Regions from separate parts of the Homo sapiens genome. Here region 2 is linked to region 1. The links come from fine-mapping of genetic effects on gene expression. Tissue or cell type: whole blood. Region 1 holds a variant in brackets; the other region holds the start of a gene. All regions are shown on one strand. Distances are between the middles of the regions.

The links. PIP is the estimated chance that this variant, and not a neighbour inherited with it, causes the effect.
Region 2: NCOA1 starts here. The variant in region 1 is fine-mapped to the expression of NCOA1 in whole blood (INTERVAL, PIP 0.99).

The regions. Positions count from the first base shown.
Region 1 is chr2:24,817,874-24,825,939 of GRCh38, forward strand. It overlaps CENPO (centromere protein O), which reads left to right. Exons shown (of 8, transcript NM_001322101.2): 8 at 1,481-4,503. It overlaps ADCY3 (adenylate cyclase 3), which reads right to left. Exons shown (of 22, transcript NM_004036.5): 17 at 6,505-6,663; 18 at 5,336-5,482; 19 at 4,638-4,757; 20 at 3,644-3,767; 21 at 2,851-2,975; 22 at 1,296-2,241. The coding sequence ends at 2,059. Among named protein-coding and RNA genes, the nearest start is that of CENPO, 28 kb to the left of the region's middle. RefSeq lists enhancers at 4,093-4,636, 4,637-5,181, 7,593-8,066. The variant C/T (reference allele first, on the strand shown) is at 4,453.
Region 2 is chr2:24,487,462-24,495,577 of GRCh38, forward strand. It overlaps NCOA1 (nuclear receptor coactivator 1), which reads left to right and starts at 3,793. Exons shown (of 23, transcript NM_003743.5): 1 at 3,793-4,141. RefSeq lists silencers at 3,446-3,785, 3,763-3,921, 4,076-4,565.

The DNA.
Region 1 (8,066 bases):
GGGTAGTACTGTCTGATGAAGGGTACATCACCCTTCTGATGAAAACAGACACCTACCTGTTCATCTGGATGGAAGAGCAGGTTTGAGTATAGACACTGGCATTTTTGAACAATTCCCATGATCACCTGGTCCCTTCTTAAAATGCTCAAGATGTTTTTTAAAGGTATTAGTTGATCATACATTTTAGTTGAAAATCATTTGTGGGGCAATAAAAGCCATTTTTTGAAAAAGGTGTATCACTCAAGAAGTACTTATGGAAAAATATCAAATTATTGAGGGCATTAACTCTGGGAAAGACCAGGCAATTAAGTTGTCACAGTAACTGCTACTAATTTAATGCCAGGAATAGAGATGCCAAAAATCCTAAAATTTTCAGAAAGGGCTCTCACAGAAATGTAGCACTCCACTCAAACTGCAATAGCTTGATTCTGTTGAGAAACACTGATCTAAATAAATGGAAAAATAACCCACATTCACTAATGAAGATAATAAGGAAGACCCAATATTTTTTTTTTTTTAAAAGGAAAGTATTTTTAGCTTTTATGAAAGCTTTAAGTAATTTTTCCTCATTTTCCTGTTTGAAACTTTTGAAAAGGAAGTTCTTCAGTGTTTGTTTGGTTAGGCGCAGTGTATTCTAGGCCACTGCTTTATAAATATGGTGTGAGAAAGCAGTAGGATAAAATAATCAGAGTTCAGTGTGTCTCATATTTTGTTTCCTAAAAGTTTAGTAGAGCTGTGAATGTACTAGGAAGTCCCCTCTGAAAAAGCACAGTTAGTTAGTTAGAAATCTGCCCATTAACTCAGGGGGACTCAGGCGCCCCCCGGGTCTTCCCTCTCCTGCAGGCTCTCCGGTTAGTGTCCTGATTTGCCGTAACCACGGGCCTCTGACCTGCTGGCACCTCTGGTTCCTTGGCGTGTGGGTCACTCACAGATATGAAAACCTGTGTCTGGCTGACCAGGTTCTCCTGTAGCCCTCCCTTGCCCAGGCACAGATAGGAGTCATGACTGGCCCAAGGCCACGTTCAGACTTAACCCTGCAATGGCCACGAAGTAACCTCCGTGTGGGAGAGCTCCAGGAACAGTGCAGGGGATTAAAGCCAGCTTGGAGTACCCTTTAGAAGAAAGTTTAAGAATAAAAGAGACAGGGCCAGGCAGCAGGCGTTCCGGGGTACAGTGAGCTATGATGAGACCTTCAAGCTCTTGCCTTCCAGGCCTGTGGTGGGGACCAGTGGCATGAGTCAGCAAAGTACCAGCACTCCTCAGATAAGTGATATTAACAGAATTTCCACAATCACTTTCAAGTTGAATAAAGCTTTTAATAAAACAGTCTTGTTCTTTATCAATACCTGTAAATTCTCTTAAAGCAGTAGCAAAGGCGACTGTAGCAAGAGCTCAAAAGGCAAGGCAATATCGGAAAGTGTATTTAACAGAAGATTAAAAATATAAATGTAGAAGATCTGTTTATATATTTTTCTTTCAGAAATAAATCCCCCCTCCCCTGCCAGGTGAAAGGAAATATTGCACTTTCTGTTCTCATGACTAAGGGGACAGGAGTTCCAGAAGAACCTTTCAAGATGATCAGGAACACCAGGACGAGGGCCGTCTCACCTCACTCGGACCACATGGAGACCTCCCTTCAAAATGGGAGCCATGTCCTGCCCCACCAAGCCCTGTCTGAAGTGGAGCTTCCCCGCCTGTGCTCCCTCCACAGTCCCGGAAAGCCCAGCGGCAAAGGCAGCTTTGTCCCAGCTCTGCCACCCTCCTGCTCACAGTGGTCAGGGCCCCTCAGGGGCAAGGACGGCAGGGATTGGAACGAGGGCTCTGGAAGGACTGTTCAGCCCTATGCCTAAGACCCCTATGCTGGGGACACTACAGGCACACACAGGAATAGCAGGGCCACCCTCAGAGCTCACACATCCACGAACAAATGAAGGCTGAGGAGGTTTCTAAACCTAAAGTCCATGAGTGTGCACTTCAATCCAGGAAGGTCGGGACTTCCTTCAGTTTCAAAAAATAAATTCTCCCTTCCGGTTTGGACTGTTGCAGGCTCGAGGCCATTCAGGAGTTGTCCACCACCTGGTGGGGCAGTGTGACAGAGGGGCCATTGGGGAAGGTGGCTAGCTTATCCCGCCCCTTCAAGAAGAAGGTCAGCAGCTCCCCCTTCCCCTTCACAAAGATGGGGCCTCGCCTCACAAAGCGGAAGCCGTACTCTCGGAGGATGACTTGGGTTTCTTCTACCACCTGGAGAGGGAGGGGGAGCAAGAACGTGGCGTTACGGGGGGAGCCTAGACTGAGGGCGGGTGGGGGCTTTGGGTGGTTGGAGCCGAGCACTGATCCATGGGTCCCAAGCAGTACGGGACACTCCCCAAACCTCCCAGGGCCAAGCCCTTCCACCCGTGGCGAGCAGCGGGTGGGAAGGAGAACCCTGGAGTGACTGGCTGGGGGCCTCCTCTCATCCAGAGACTTCTCTCCTAGGATGGCCATGGTCACCTGGGTGGCAGCACTGTTACCTGGAAACTGCCACTGCCTGCTCTTCTGTCCCTTTGCCCCTTTCGTGGAGCTTTTCTGCCAGACGCCACTGAGACAGATCACAAGGTATTAGAAGGTTCATACCCAAAGGTAGGCCATATGCATCTAGAACTTCAGCCCAGATTTTGTGGATGGGTGGAAGTGTTTCTTCCTGTGCTGAGGCTAGCTATTGCAGAGATTCTTTTCCACTTGCCCCACGTCTCTGCCTCTGGACTTACTGTTCAGGGCCAGGGTGGGAGGCAGGGGCACGTGGGAAAGCACTGTTCCGGTTTTGTTCTCATGCCGAGTCTGAGCACGTGCCAGCTGTGCCACTGGACATACCTGAATGTTGCCCATGACCCCCGTGGACTCCATCCTGCTGGCTACATTGACTGTATTGCCCCAGATGTCGTAGTGTGGTTTCCGGGCTCCGATGACCCCAGCCAGAACCCCGCCTTTGTTCATGCCTAGGGTAGAGGCATAAAGTTCAGCACAGCCACAGGCCACACCTTGTTATGGGCCTCAGAAGCCATCTCCTCTCCAGACCTGTACCACAAAGCTCCTAATGTAACACATCATTGTCCTCATTCAACTTGGCTGTATGCTATTGGAGGGTGGAAATCACATCTCCTGTTTATCCGTGTGCTTGTTAGGTGTCAGCCGCCACCCCCCCCCCATATGCAGATTTACTCGGCATGGTAGTGGCCAGCTTCTAACACAGCTGGTATTTCAAGTCTCCTGGGACCTCACTCAGGAATGATACCCCCTCAGTAGAAGCAGCAGGTGATCTTAACTCCTTTCAAAGAGCAGGCCTGTCTGGGAAGCCATGTCCTCAGCAGGCACAGCAACCCCTCTGGAAATGGATCACAAACTCACTTCTCAGCCAGGCAGGCCAAGCTTCTATTGTAACAGTAGGCACAGTATAGTCGGATCATCACATCAGCTGGGTTTTTGGTTTAGTCATCTAGAGTCGTCTGGACTAAAGGTCTTTCAGGTCTCCTTGCCCTGTGAGTGCGTGAACCTCCCCACCCGAATTGCCTCAGTTGTCCTGAGCCTCATGTCTCTCCTGGTGGTGGGCCAGGCCCCTGCATGGGAAGGGAGCCTGCTGCGGGGCAGGCCAGCTGGGGGTGCTCACCTATGCGCAGCATGAAGTTATTGAAGGACTGGTTGTTGATGTTGGTGAGCGTATCCTTCATGGCCAGCGCGAAGTCGGCCAGGTCAGCCAGGTGCTGCCAGCGCTCTCTCTCGGACTTGTCTTCCTGTGCCAGGGGACCGTGGAGAAAGTGTCAGGGGCCGCTCACTGCAGCAGCCTGCTCTGCTGCCTTCCCTGGCAGTGTTCTGGGGGTGGATTCCCTACACCTAGATGTTCAAGGCCTTACTTTTCCTCCCACAAAGGAGTCGCAGCCACGCTAGCTCTGACTTGCCACTGTGACAAAGTTCACGTAGCAGGTCTAGGCAAAGACTGGGCAATTGAGCAGAGGAGACGGACCTGTGAGTCTGACCACGAGGCGGACCCCTTCACCTTGGCTGGGCCTGGTCCTGGTCCTTAGGTTTTGTCAGGTTGTCCTTGTTTGGATCCCTCAACTAGGTGATAAGCACTGGAGGGGGATGACCCGCCTTGGACGTGTTTCTTTAACCTCATCCATATAATAGGGCCGTGGGATGGTTGTAGAGGTAAAGCAGGATGATGGTGTTTTAAGACCAGAGCTTGGGACCAGGGCTCCTACACCTAATTTTCTCTCCTGGTAGCTGAACAAAGGTCTAAATTAGCTTAACAAAAGAACAGGCTGCCGTCAGCCAGAGTTCTGAAGGCCATGCTTTCAGTTTCCCTTGTTGACAATTGCTCTCCAGTTCCTATGAAAGCACAGAGCCTTAGGGGGCCTGGCCACAGAACACAACCATCTTAGGCCTGAGCTGTGAACAGCAGGGGGTTGTGTGTCTGTT[C/T]TGTTTCTCTGCTTGCCGAACTTTCTCAATAAACCCTATTTCTTATTTATATTTACGTGGTGCTGGTGGTGTGTGTCTGGGACCACTTTGCACAGCAGTTCTTATTTCCCCCATGCTAGGTCTGGGCTGCCAATCTCTTGCCTTGGGGGCAGAGCCTCATCTCTCTGGCTACTGGGGTTAGCTACCTTGTTGGAGCTGGCAAAGCCATTGGTGTTGACATCGGGGGTGACTCCTGAAGCCGCCATATACGTGCTGCCAATGGTTTTGATCTTGGTGATCACCCGGAACTTGGGATTGTCCAGGAGCTGAGGCCAGGATTCAGGAAAGAATTGTCAGCAGTCAAGGGAGAGGAATGACCCAACCCAGTGACAGATGTACCTGTTTACAAGGACCCCACTAAACCCAAGAGACACTTTCCTATCAAAGTTGTTACTTAGTCTACCGCTTATCTGCCACATGATCCTGGGAGAACTTCCTAACTTTCTGGGCCTGTTTCCACAACCTCAACACTGACATAAAATCGGCAGTCTCCTAGGGGGGCTCCGCGCGTGTGTAAAAGCATTCTCCCTGGTATACAGGTCACCCAGTCAATGCTGACCGGCTCTGAATTTGAGGAGACAGTCCCAGGACAGAGAGGTCTCGAGATGTTGCTTGGCCAGTCCTTATCCTTATCCTGTGACCCTGTGGGTGATTTCCCGGGCTCCCACCTCACCTCCCCTTCCCCAGCCCAGCAGTTCCAGGTGGCTGCAGAAGTCCATGTATTGCGGAAGGGGCTTATCTGGGAAAATGAAGCCAGTTTCTCTGGCCTCTGCAGCCTATTGTAGGATGTGATGTGGAATGGGCCGGCTTCATGGCCAGAGTGCAGGGTGGGATGGGCACTCACAGAGTCAAAATCTGAGATGATTTCATTGAGGAAACGCAGACACTCAATACCACCATTGTTGATGCTCTCCTCTGTGTAGAAGTCAGCAAAGTTGGGCAGGGAGGCAAACATGACTCCAATCTCATCATACGTCTGGCTATACAGCTCCTAAAAAGAGGTGCGGACAACGTGCTCAAAGCATGTCCGACTGACTGGATGATGTGTTGGAGAAATGCATCTATCTTCCATGCATGACATGTGCACTCAGCTTTTTGGACTCACACATCAGTCAGATTATTCCAGCATTTTTTTTTTTTTTTTTAAGAGTGGGTCTTGCTGTGTTTCCCAGGCTGGAGTGCAGTGGCAGTAAACAAGCACAATTAGGTATGATCGAAGCACACTGCGGCCTTGAACACCAGGTATCTGGGACCACAGACACATGTCACCATGCCCGGCTGTAGATTATTCCAACTCTGAATAATTTAAAAATAGCTCATCGCTACTTTTTTTTTTTTTTTTTGAGAGATGGAGTCTTGCTGTGTCACCCAGGCTGGAGTTGAGTGGCACAATCTCAGCTCACTGCAACCTCCACCTCCCGGGTTCAAGTGAGTCTCCTGTCTCAGTTTCCCGAGTAGCTGGGACGACAGGTGTGCACCACCGCGTCCAGTTAATTTTTGTATTTTTTAGTAGAGACAGGGTTTCACTATTTGTTGCCCAGGCTGGTCTCAAACTCCTGACCTCAGATGATCCACCCGCCTCGGCCTCCCAAAGTGCCGGGATTACAGGCATGAGCCACTGTGCCCGGCCACTACTTTGAATAAATTTTAAAACAGCTTCTCTAGTTCCTCTAACAGCCCCAGCTGTGAAGACGAGGGTACCGTAGAGCTGGGAACCACTCTGTTTGGAGAAGTTCACAGGCAACAGAAAGGTGGGCTCTAGCCAAAGTCTTGTCTTCTGACACATGGCCTCAGAGCTGTACGGCCCACATCACGATGCCTACAGCAGTGCACTTTATAAGAGGCCGGAGAAATTCCTCTTTTGCTTATTTGTGTTTGCTGTTTAGGTTCAGCCCTACCTAGGCCCCAGTCCCCTGTCCCTGAGAAGGCCTGGGCCCAGCGGGGGCTGCCTGAAAGAAAGAACAGATGGAGACAAATGGCCTCATGGTTCCGGGCTGAGACCACACCCCTCACCTCATCTCTCTTCTTGGACCCCAGGAAATGGCGTGCCACGTGCTCAGGCAACATGTTGGTGACCAAGGCCTCGTTCCAGCGTCGCATCTCATAGACACGTTCCTTCTGGTCGTGGACCTCAATCTTCCACAAGAAAAGTGTCCGTGCCAGTTTTTCTACCTACAGACACAGACAAGGCGAGGCATGTGCTCTAAGCTGGCCACTGGATAGAAGGATGAAAAACAGGAATGGCCAGGCGTGGCGGTTCATGCCTGTAATCCCAGCACTTTGGGAGGCCGAGGCAGGCGGATCACCTGAGGTCAGGAGTTCGAGACCAGCCTGACCAACATGGTGAAACCCTGTCTCTACTAAAAATACAAAAATTAGCCGGGCATGGTGGCGGGCACCTGTAATCCCAGCTACTCGGGAGGCTGAGGCAGGAGAATCAACTTGAACCCAGGAGGCAGAGGTTGCAGTGAGCCGAGATCGCACCACTGCACTCCAGCCTGGGCAAAAGAGTGAGACTCAGTCTCAAAAAAAGAAGAAAAACAGGAACGTGAATGGAGGAACTCCCCTTGGAAAGGCTGGAAGGAAGATGGCTAAATGGCAAGGGAAGTAAGACCCTGCAAAGATTGCACCTCATCAAAAGGCCACCCAATAGTGGTGCGGTTCCCAGCCTCCGTAATTACAGCAGAGATCCAGGAGGCCTTCCGTGTGTAGGGGGCCTCTTGGGACCTAATTTCAGCTGCAGGTCTGTCTCGTGGAGGTGGCAGCAGTGGGGATCTCCCAACTCAGGGTGGAGTCCCCCTTTCTAGCAGGCGCCATTTGGGTAAGAAGTGGCTTGGGAAGGCTGTACTTCCCTGGAAAGCCAGTAGGGGGCACTTGAACTAACATTGGGCCCTAAGTACAGAGGATCTTTCTCTTCCCTCTCTTCCTTCTCTTTTCCTTTTTTGTCCGGTTGAGTGCGGTGGTTGTGGCGGGGGGGGGGGGGGTGCGGGGGGGGTGTCTCACTTTGTCACCCAGGCTGGAGTGCAGTGGTGTGATCTCAGCTTACTACAGCCTCAACCTCCTAGATTCAAGCAATCCTCCTGCCTCAGCCTCTCAAGTAGCTGGGATTACAGGTGCGGGCCACCATGCCTGGCTAATTTTTGTATTTTTTAGTAGAGACAGGGTTTCACCATATTGCCCAGGCTGGTCTCAGACTCCTGGACTCAAGTGATCCTCCACCCTCAGCCTCCCAAAATGAGCCACTGCACCGGCCTTCTCTTTTCCTTTTAACCCAACAGAAAGTCCATCAGCTCCCTTCTCTTTCTCTTCTGGCTCTGTGGTCAGTTGTGTTAATGTCCCTCAGCGCCACGGGGAGTGCGGGGGCCATGAGCCCCTGGCCTAGGGGATATTGATTTGATTCAAGATGTTTGTGCCTTCACTCTATCCCCTCCCACCTTCACTCCCATGCTTCCTTCACCATCCTGGAGGGGGTCGGACGGAAGAGGTGAGGAACTGTCTTCCTGTGTGACTGAGGAAGGAGCCTGAATAGAGAAGGCGGTGGCCTGACCAGGCTCACGTGTGGGGCTGGGTGAAGG
Region 2 (8,116 bases), 330 kb before region 1:
CTATGGCTAGGACCACAGATTGAAACAATTTTCTGGAGGCCAGTTTGGTAAATAATGTAGTAAAAAAATTAACATGTACCCTTTGAGCCAACAATTAATCTTCTAGAAATTTAAAGAAAATAATTTCTAAACTGCACGGAGGCATGCATTAGAATTACAGCATGATTTACAAAAATATACAAACAAAAATACAGACAATGTAAACATTTTTAGTAAGGAATTAAATGGCTAAACAGATACACAATGCAAGAGTATTTAACTATTAGGATGAAAATACATTGTACAGTAAAAGGCACCAGATTACTGATGAGCATTTATCATGTGATTTTATTTTATTTATTTTATTTTTTTGAGATGGAGTCTCACTCTGTTGCCCAGGCTGGAGTGCAGTGAGGCGATCTTGGCTCACTGCAGCTTCTGCCTCCTGGGTTCAAATGATTCTCCTGCCTCAGCCTCCTGAGTAGCTGGGATTACAGGCACCCACCACCACACTGAGTAGAGACAGAGTTTCACAATGTTGGCCAGGCTGGTCTTGAACTCCTGACCTCAGGTGATTCGCCTGTCTCGGCCTCCCAAAGTGCTGGGATTACAGGCGTGATTTTATTTTTATGTAAAATTGACTACATATAGTGTATTTATATGTGCAAATATATATAGAGAAAGGTGTGGAAACATGTTTACTATGTTTCTCTCTGGCTTGAAAAAGTTTATTTTTAAACTTTTTGTGCTGTTCTTTATTGACTGAATATTTTGTGAGTCTGTATCAATTATTATAAAACAAAAAACTATTTGAAAAAAAGAATGTCAAAGTTAAATCAATTCTTGCCTCAGTAACTGGAGTAATTTCATGCACACTAGCCATATATTTTATAGAACTGGAAATCTATTATGCTCTGGAGAAAATCCAACAGGTATGTTCTAGATTTTGCCCGTAGAACTAGGCTGTTTCTAGTCCACCAAAGGATTATATTAATTTATGGAAACAATAGGGTTTGGACTAAAACCAGTTCTATCTGGGCTATAAGAGTTAAATGTTGTCTTACATTTTTATTTATAAATATCTTCAAAGCATTTTCATTTAATTGGAGTTAGTCTTCCTTGTTGATTGGCATTGTATTTTGGGAGTAAATAAATTTTAAATAGCTAAGGTAAATGGATTTTAGAGAGGCTACTTGTACAGTCACGAAGTAAATCTAATGAATCTTTTGGCCCTATATTTAGGGTTGCTCGGGTGGATTAGTAAAATGGGCCTGTTTAGTAAAAGTAGATGGAGTCTGAGAGAAGTTGAGTATGACCAGAGAAAAGATTACCAATTGGAGACATAAAAGGGTGTTATAACTGCTTTGACAAGTGATTATGACTTGTAGAGGAAGGAGAAAAAAGTCAAAGAGTTATTATTTAAGAAACATTACCAGGCGCAGTGGCTCATGACTGTAATCCCAGCACTTTGGGAGGCCGAGGCTGGTGGATAACCTGAGGTCAGGAGTTCAAGACCAGCCTGGCCAACACGGCGAAACCCTGTCTCTACTAAAAATACAAAAAATTAGCCGGGCGTGGTGGCGGGTGCCTGTAATCCCAGCTACTCGGGAGGCTGAGGCAGGAGAATCACTTGAACCCAGGAGGCAGAGGCTGCAGTGAGCTGAGATCGCGCCACTGCACTCCAGCCTGGGCGACAAGAGCGAGACTCTGTTTCAACAACAACAAAAAAGAAACAGTACCATTCTAGAAAAGAACTCTCTCTTTAGCATACATGGATGGTTATGGCAATATAAATTAACACCTAAATAATTTGTCATTCAACAAAATCTTAGCACTGTGTGTCTTGAGGATATTTTAAAGTTAATTACGACCCCGGGCTGCAGAGTGGGAGATTGGAAGAAGGAAATTCAGGAGTTGTTTTGTTAACAGTTGAAGCTGTGGAAATAAACAGTCAACCGAAGCCAGAGGAAAGGAAGGAAAAAAATAAAACCTTGAGGATACCAACATTTTTTATGGCCCCGTAAAAAAGGAGCAGCCCAAGAAAAGTGCAAACGAAGGCAAGTTCAGAAATCAGGTAGAGAGACTCATATTGAAGACAAGGGAGGAGAGTTTCAAAAAGGAGGAGTTAGCAGTATCACGTGCTGTAGAAAGGCCACACGACAGTAGGACTGAAGTGGCCACTAGATTTGGCCTTCAGCACTTACTAGAGTCTAGTGGAGACAGGAGTACCTTGCACAAGTGGCTCATTTGTTGGCACCAGAGGCTAGAACAAGGCACTTTCACACAGTCTGCATTGGACTAGATTGGGAAGTAGGCCCTACATTAGGGGACGAAACTCATGAGTGCCCGGGTATTTTCAGCTATTATTGGGGATAGGGACTCTGCGGGTGGCTAGAGGTACTGCTAAGCCAGAGCTCAGGAGATGCACCTAGGGCCCCAGTAGTAGGTCTCCGATAAGAATCAGGGGAATGAATATATAAATGAATGAATATATGAATGCATGTGGGGGTGTGGTCTAGCGATTACTTTATGAGCGTGACAAGGATAGGAAGAGGATGGTGAAAGCATACAGTAGTACCTGCCTGTGAAAGAAGCTGCCCGTCGACTCAGAGAGCTGCCACGGAGATTGGTGTTTTCAAGGCTGTCAGGTTCCCCAGTTGGGAGAAGGGTGGGAAGGGCTTAAGGATTTACAGAGATTGATTTAGGGGAGAACACACAGGAAGCGAAACAGCAGGAAACGCCGGGAGACAGCAGCAGCAGGACAGGATTGAGGAAGGGTAAGAGTGCGAAATGGGGTAAGAATAAAAGAAAGGAATGGACAGATGTATGCTTTACAAGGCACTTCCACGGCGAGTGACTCATTCATGCTTAGGACAACCCAGGGAGAGACATAGGTATATATTGCATTGCCAGCCTTTGGAATGCGGGATGCGGTCCAGATAAGGCCATCGCAGCTCAGAGAGGCTGTTCAGCCGCTGTTCGATTCCTCTGGTGACAAGAACACTCTACTTTTGGAAGTAGCACTTCTATTAGAGAAGTTAAAAAAAAAAAAAAAAGAAAAGGGAGATAAGAAGAAAGGTGTGGGCCCCTTGAGGGGAAAGATCTGTGAATGACAGACATTTTAGATAATTCATGGAATTGCAGAGCCAGAACGGGTCAGGCAGATCTTTTCATCTGTAAAACGAAGGGGGCAGACGATCTTCCTTTTCTCTTGTCTAATAGCCTGTGAAATCATCTAGGCAACCACCTCCCAATTTTACAGAATAAAAAACGAGGCCCGCGGGATATGTCTCGCTCAAAGTAACAGAACGCCCGAGTGGAGGGACAGGCCCGGAGCCGACTCCGCCCCGTCCGCAGGGCCTCTCGCCGCTCCGACACCTTCCCAGAAAGATAAAGAACAGCGGGAGGCGGCAGGCCCGGCGGCCTAGCTGCGAGCGCCCTGGTGTTCGAGGCCGCTTCCCGGCAGCAGTGGGAGGAACGCCCCGAGGGGAGGGCAGGAGAGGGGCGGGGAGGAGTTGAGACGGGCGGGGAAGAGTTCGGGCCTCCTTTCCCACACTTCGTTAGGACGCCGGCTGGGGCGGGCCGGCAGAGGGCGCGGGGCGGTTCCTCGCTCGGCGGGCCCGGCAGGCCCGGCGGGCTGGGGGCGCGCTGTCCCGGGCGCACTGTCGGAGCTCGCGGGCACCGGGTCGCGGCGGCCCGGGCGGCCGGAGCCGGCAGGGGAAGTGCGGCGGGCGGGCAGGCGGGCGGCCGGGAACGGGCGGGGCGGGGCGGGGCGCGAAGGGGGCGGTGCCGCGAGCGGGGGGCGGTGGCGGCGGCGGCGGTGGCGGCCGAGGAGGAGAACATGGCGGCCGCGGAGAGCGGCTGAAATGCCTGTTCTTCAGGCCGGGCGAGCGGGAGTCTGACGCGATTTGCTGAGCTCTGTCCTCCGACGGCTGCCTCGCGGCCTTGAGGGCCTCCGCCGCCTGTTCGCTGCTGCTCCCTCGAGCGGAGCCTGCGTCAGGTTCCCTCTGCATCCCCCTGCGGGGGGACCCCTGCTCCGGAGGAGGGGGCCGGAGAGCCGCGGCGCCGGGCCCGAGGAGCGGCGGAGGCCGGGGCGGCGCCGCCGCCACGGTCGCGGACGAGTGCGGCGCCGGTGAGCGGGGCCCAGAGGCGGCGGCGGCAGGTGAGTGGCGGGCTGCGGGTGCGGAGCCTCCCGGTGGGTGCAGCTGTCACGAGCCGCGCGGCCGCGGAGGCCCTAGGGGGCGGGGAGCAGCTGGCGCCCCTCCGCCCCCTGCTCTCCTTTCTCCCGCTCCATCCTCCTCCCACTTCCCCGAGTTCCCCTCGCGGCCCGGCGCGGCTGGAGGGGGCGGAGGTCGCAGCTGTCACGGGCACCAGCTGGGGGCTGCTCCCCGCCGGGGGAAATCGCTGCAGCAGCGACTTCTCTCCGCCTCTTTTCCAGTTGCCCTAGTTAGCGCGGAGAGGGCGAGCATCCGCGGAGGGGGTGCGAGCTGCGCGGCCGCCTGCCCGGCGTGGGGAGCGGGCGCCCCGGGCCGCCGCCGAGAGGGGGAGCCGGAAGTCGGCGCGGGCGCCCCTCGGCCCCGACGACGCCGTGACCTTGGCCGGCCCGCTCACCTCTCGGAATCTCGCCTGCCGGGACCGCGAAATGGGGGCGACCGCGGCGTCCCTCTCCGTCGGCGCAGCCCTCGACGGCGCTTGGGTTTGACCCCGGCGCGCTTGCTCGCCCCTTCTCCCGAGAAGGGGTTTCGGAGGTAGACATGGGATGGATACTGGACATGTTCCTGTCGCGGCCCGGGTTTGGTCCCCTTCCTGGGATTCAGCCGAAAGGGCCGAGGAAGGGAAGCAAACATGTTGACGAGGCGATTGGGAGGTGGGGTTGGTTAGTGGGCAGTGACAGAATTCGGGCCGCTCTCTAGTCCCTTGTAAAAGACCTGAAAAAATCGGACACCCAGGGTCTCCAGTCCTTACTACCCAGCTGTGGTGGCTGCTTTTTTATTTTATTTAAAAGCAGTTACCCCCATGGGTAGACACTGCCCAGTCTGACGACGTTAGAGGGAGACGGAGGGGTTGACAATACAGCCTGTGTGTGTGTGACAAGGACAGGCCACGGTGTTGTGTCCGGAGAGTTTCATGGGGAGGAAAACTTTAAGCTGGAGGATCTGTTAGCCTCTCATGCTTGGCCCTCCTCGTTTCTTGTAGAGGTGTTGAACAGGCAGGTGTCCTTGTGCAGAAGGTGACATTTTTTCTTCGGAGACGGTGAGTTTTTAATGTCGAGTGTGATGTTGGTGAGTAAAGGGTTCTTGAGTGAATTGCAGTCCCAGCACCCTCTGTGGATGCCAAGAGGAATCTCTGTGGCGATGATTTGTGAGGGCTGGTGCTTACATTTCAGTGATTAAGAAATCAAGTGTCTGCTTAAAACATTACTGCCGTGAAGCGTAGATTATATGATACAGTTGAGGGATGGATCTCAAGGGTTAAATTTGTTTGAGGTTTGTCTCCTCTTCTGGAATTGGTTGGAGGCTAGTCTCAAAAAAAAAGCAAACAAAACAACAACAATAACAACGAAAGTTGGCCAGAGGGGCCTCCTATGATGTTGTAGGAAGGGGGTCGGATTTCTTCATGTTGAGAATAATGTGAAAAGAAAGTATTTGCTTAGGTCTCTTGGATCTTCAACTAGAAATAGTTTTGGGTTAAAGGTAGCAGTGGGGTTTGATTCAGCTTAACAAATAGGCATTCCTTGAACTATTTGCCATAAATTAGATAAAATGGAAGTGTTTCTGTTTTATCTCCTGTACTTTGTGGAAAGGTCTAATTTGGTTTTGTGAACGAATGTCCGAAATGTTTTATATTTCTTCTTCAGACTCTATGCTTTGGGAACAGTGGGTCACAGAGAGGGTCTGAGTTGGGAATATATGGTTTAGAGAGAAAATAGAGGACTGCTGCTTATAAGAACAGGTGTTTAGTTTGATTTTTGTAGATATTTTCTACTGGTTATTTAACAACATTGAAGTTTGCTTTATAAGGTGCAAAACGTGAATTTTACGTAGCTTACACTTGATCTCTTCCTTATTTCTCTCAGAAAACCTGTAGGATTGTGCCTATTAAATTGCTTTTTGTGTGGTTTAAACCAAGAGAGTATTTTAGATCTGCAGTGGTTTTATTGGAAAAAAAAAAAAAGTGCTTGATGGAGCTAATGGTGATTGTTTCACTTAAACTAGGATTATATAGACAATGCTTCTTCCTGCCTCTTTCTGCGAACATTTGTTTTTGTTTCTCCCTCAATTCCAGGGTTTCATTTCTAGAAATCTGGGCTGCAAACAGAAGCAGCAGTTTGTATAATCCCAAGAACTTGCTTATGCCAGGAAGCTGTAAGGGTAGCATGAAGCGGGTGTGATGTAAAGACACTGCTACTACTTAAGACATTTAACTGTTGAGGGAGTCTAAGGTCAAACTTTAATTTTTGTTGAATTTCCTGTTTTCTGCTTATGTGTTAATCTTTTGGTGGGCAGAAGATTGGGTTGCTATGGTGCTAACTGGTGTATATTGTGAAAGTGCTGGCAACATTTCATGCTTTTACTCTATAGGGAAGGGTGGTAAACAAGCCTAAATAATTTAAAGATGTTGTTCTCAGAATGGAATGTTCTGTGCATGTCTTCTTGATCCTGCTAATCCAGTGAGCGGTCTTCACTAGGACTAAATGTTGAGTAAGTGATGAGGGTGGTATAGAGGTGCTGAAAGGTGGAGTGGTGGAGAGAGGGTATTGGGCATTTTCTTGAAATTCTTTTCCCCAATTCTGTATAGGGAATCTGTATACTAGACTGTGATTTATAATTGTTTTTCAAGGATGTTTTAGTTCTCCCTGCTTGGTTGTCATCAATTTCATATACCTCCTCTTAGATACTACCTCTGTTCCGTACTTTAGTTTGTCTTTTTTGCTGCGTCTCCCAAGGACTCCACATTGTTTGAATGTTATGTTGCATATCTTATGGAGTTGGCTGGCCTTAAGCCATGTGGCTTAACATAGTTTTCATTATAGGGCAGGTGTGGGAGGTCAATACAACGCACAACACGGAGTAAAATCTAAGTCATGGAGCATAGGAGATCCCCGGGACGCTCATGATTGTTTTGGCATTGGTTTTTGCCTTTTAAATATGATTATAACAGAAATTCTCAGAGGACCATCAGCTGCTTTCCTGGCAGAGGTCCAAAAATGTTTTGGAGGGTTCCATTTTGCATTACTTGCAAATATTGGATGCTGTGGTCGGTGTGGGCTCGGGTGAAATCCATGTGTTTCAGGAGGTGGATGTCAGAACACTGTATCTGATCTGGGCTGCAGAACCGTATAAATTTCTCCCTATCTTAGATTAACTTTCCTACCCATTTGGGAAGACTAGACTGTAGGAAAGGACTTTTTAAAATTGCTTCTTTCCCAGATTAGCAGTAGTTTAGCCGTTGGTGATTGGCAACTAAGGATAGGCCTCATGTTCTATTCTTAACATTGAAGATGAGGTCTAGTCATTTAAAACCTTTCCTTTTCTCTTTATATTTTAGTTAGACCTTGTGCCTTTCAACATTTGGTGTCAGAGGTCATAAAATGGCCTAGTGGCAACTAGGTACCAATGTTGGTTGCTTCATTTCATAAGGAGATGAAGGTGTTTTTTTTTTGTTTTTTTTTTTTAATAGCTTAGTTCTGGAAAATGGTTTGTGGGCTATAGTATTTGGATTAATGTATAGAAATGATTATTATATATTTCTGCAGGATACATGGCTGAATAAGGGAAATTATTATAAAACGCTGATACCAACATATAAGTCCAATTCCATAAGTTTAAGTAAAGTGAGTTGTATCCATGCTTCTTCCCCCATAACCCCATCTGCAACACAGAATTTTTGAGGCTCCTTGGAGTGATAGGCTTTTAGAAAAGCTTAGTATGGTTATCATATTTAAAAGATAAGTAGCTTATGCCAAAATAGAAGCTCTAGTCACTCGAGGAGTTATGGAAGACTCACCCTCATCTTGGATATATTTTGTTCTTACCACTCCCCGAGAGTATGTTTTAGTGTGTGGAGGGCAGGGATGTTTGGTTTTACTGAGTAGCCCTGACCTGACCATTAGGCACAGACAGGCCAGACTCATAAA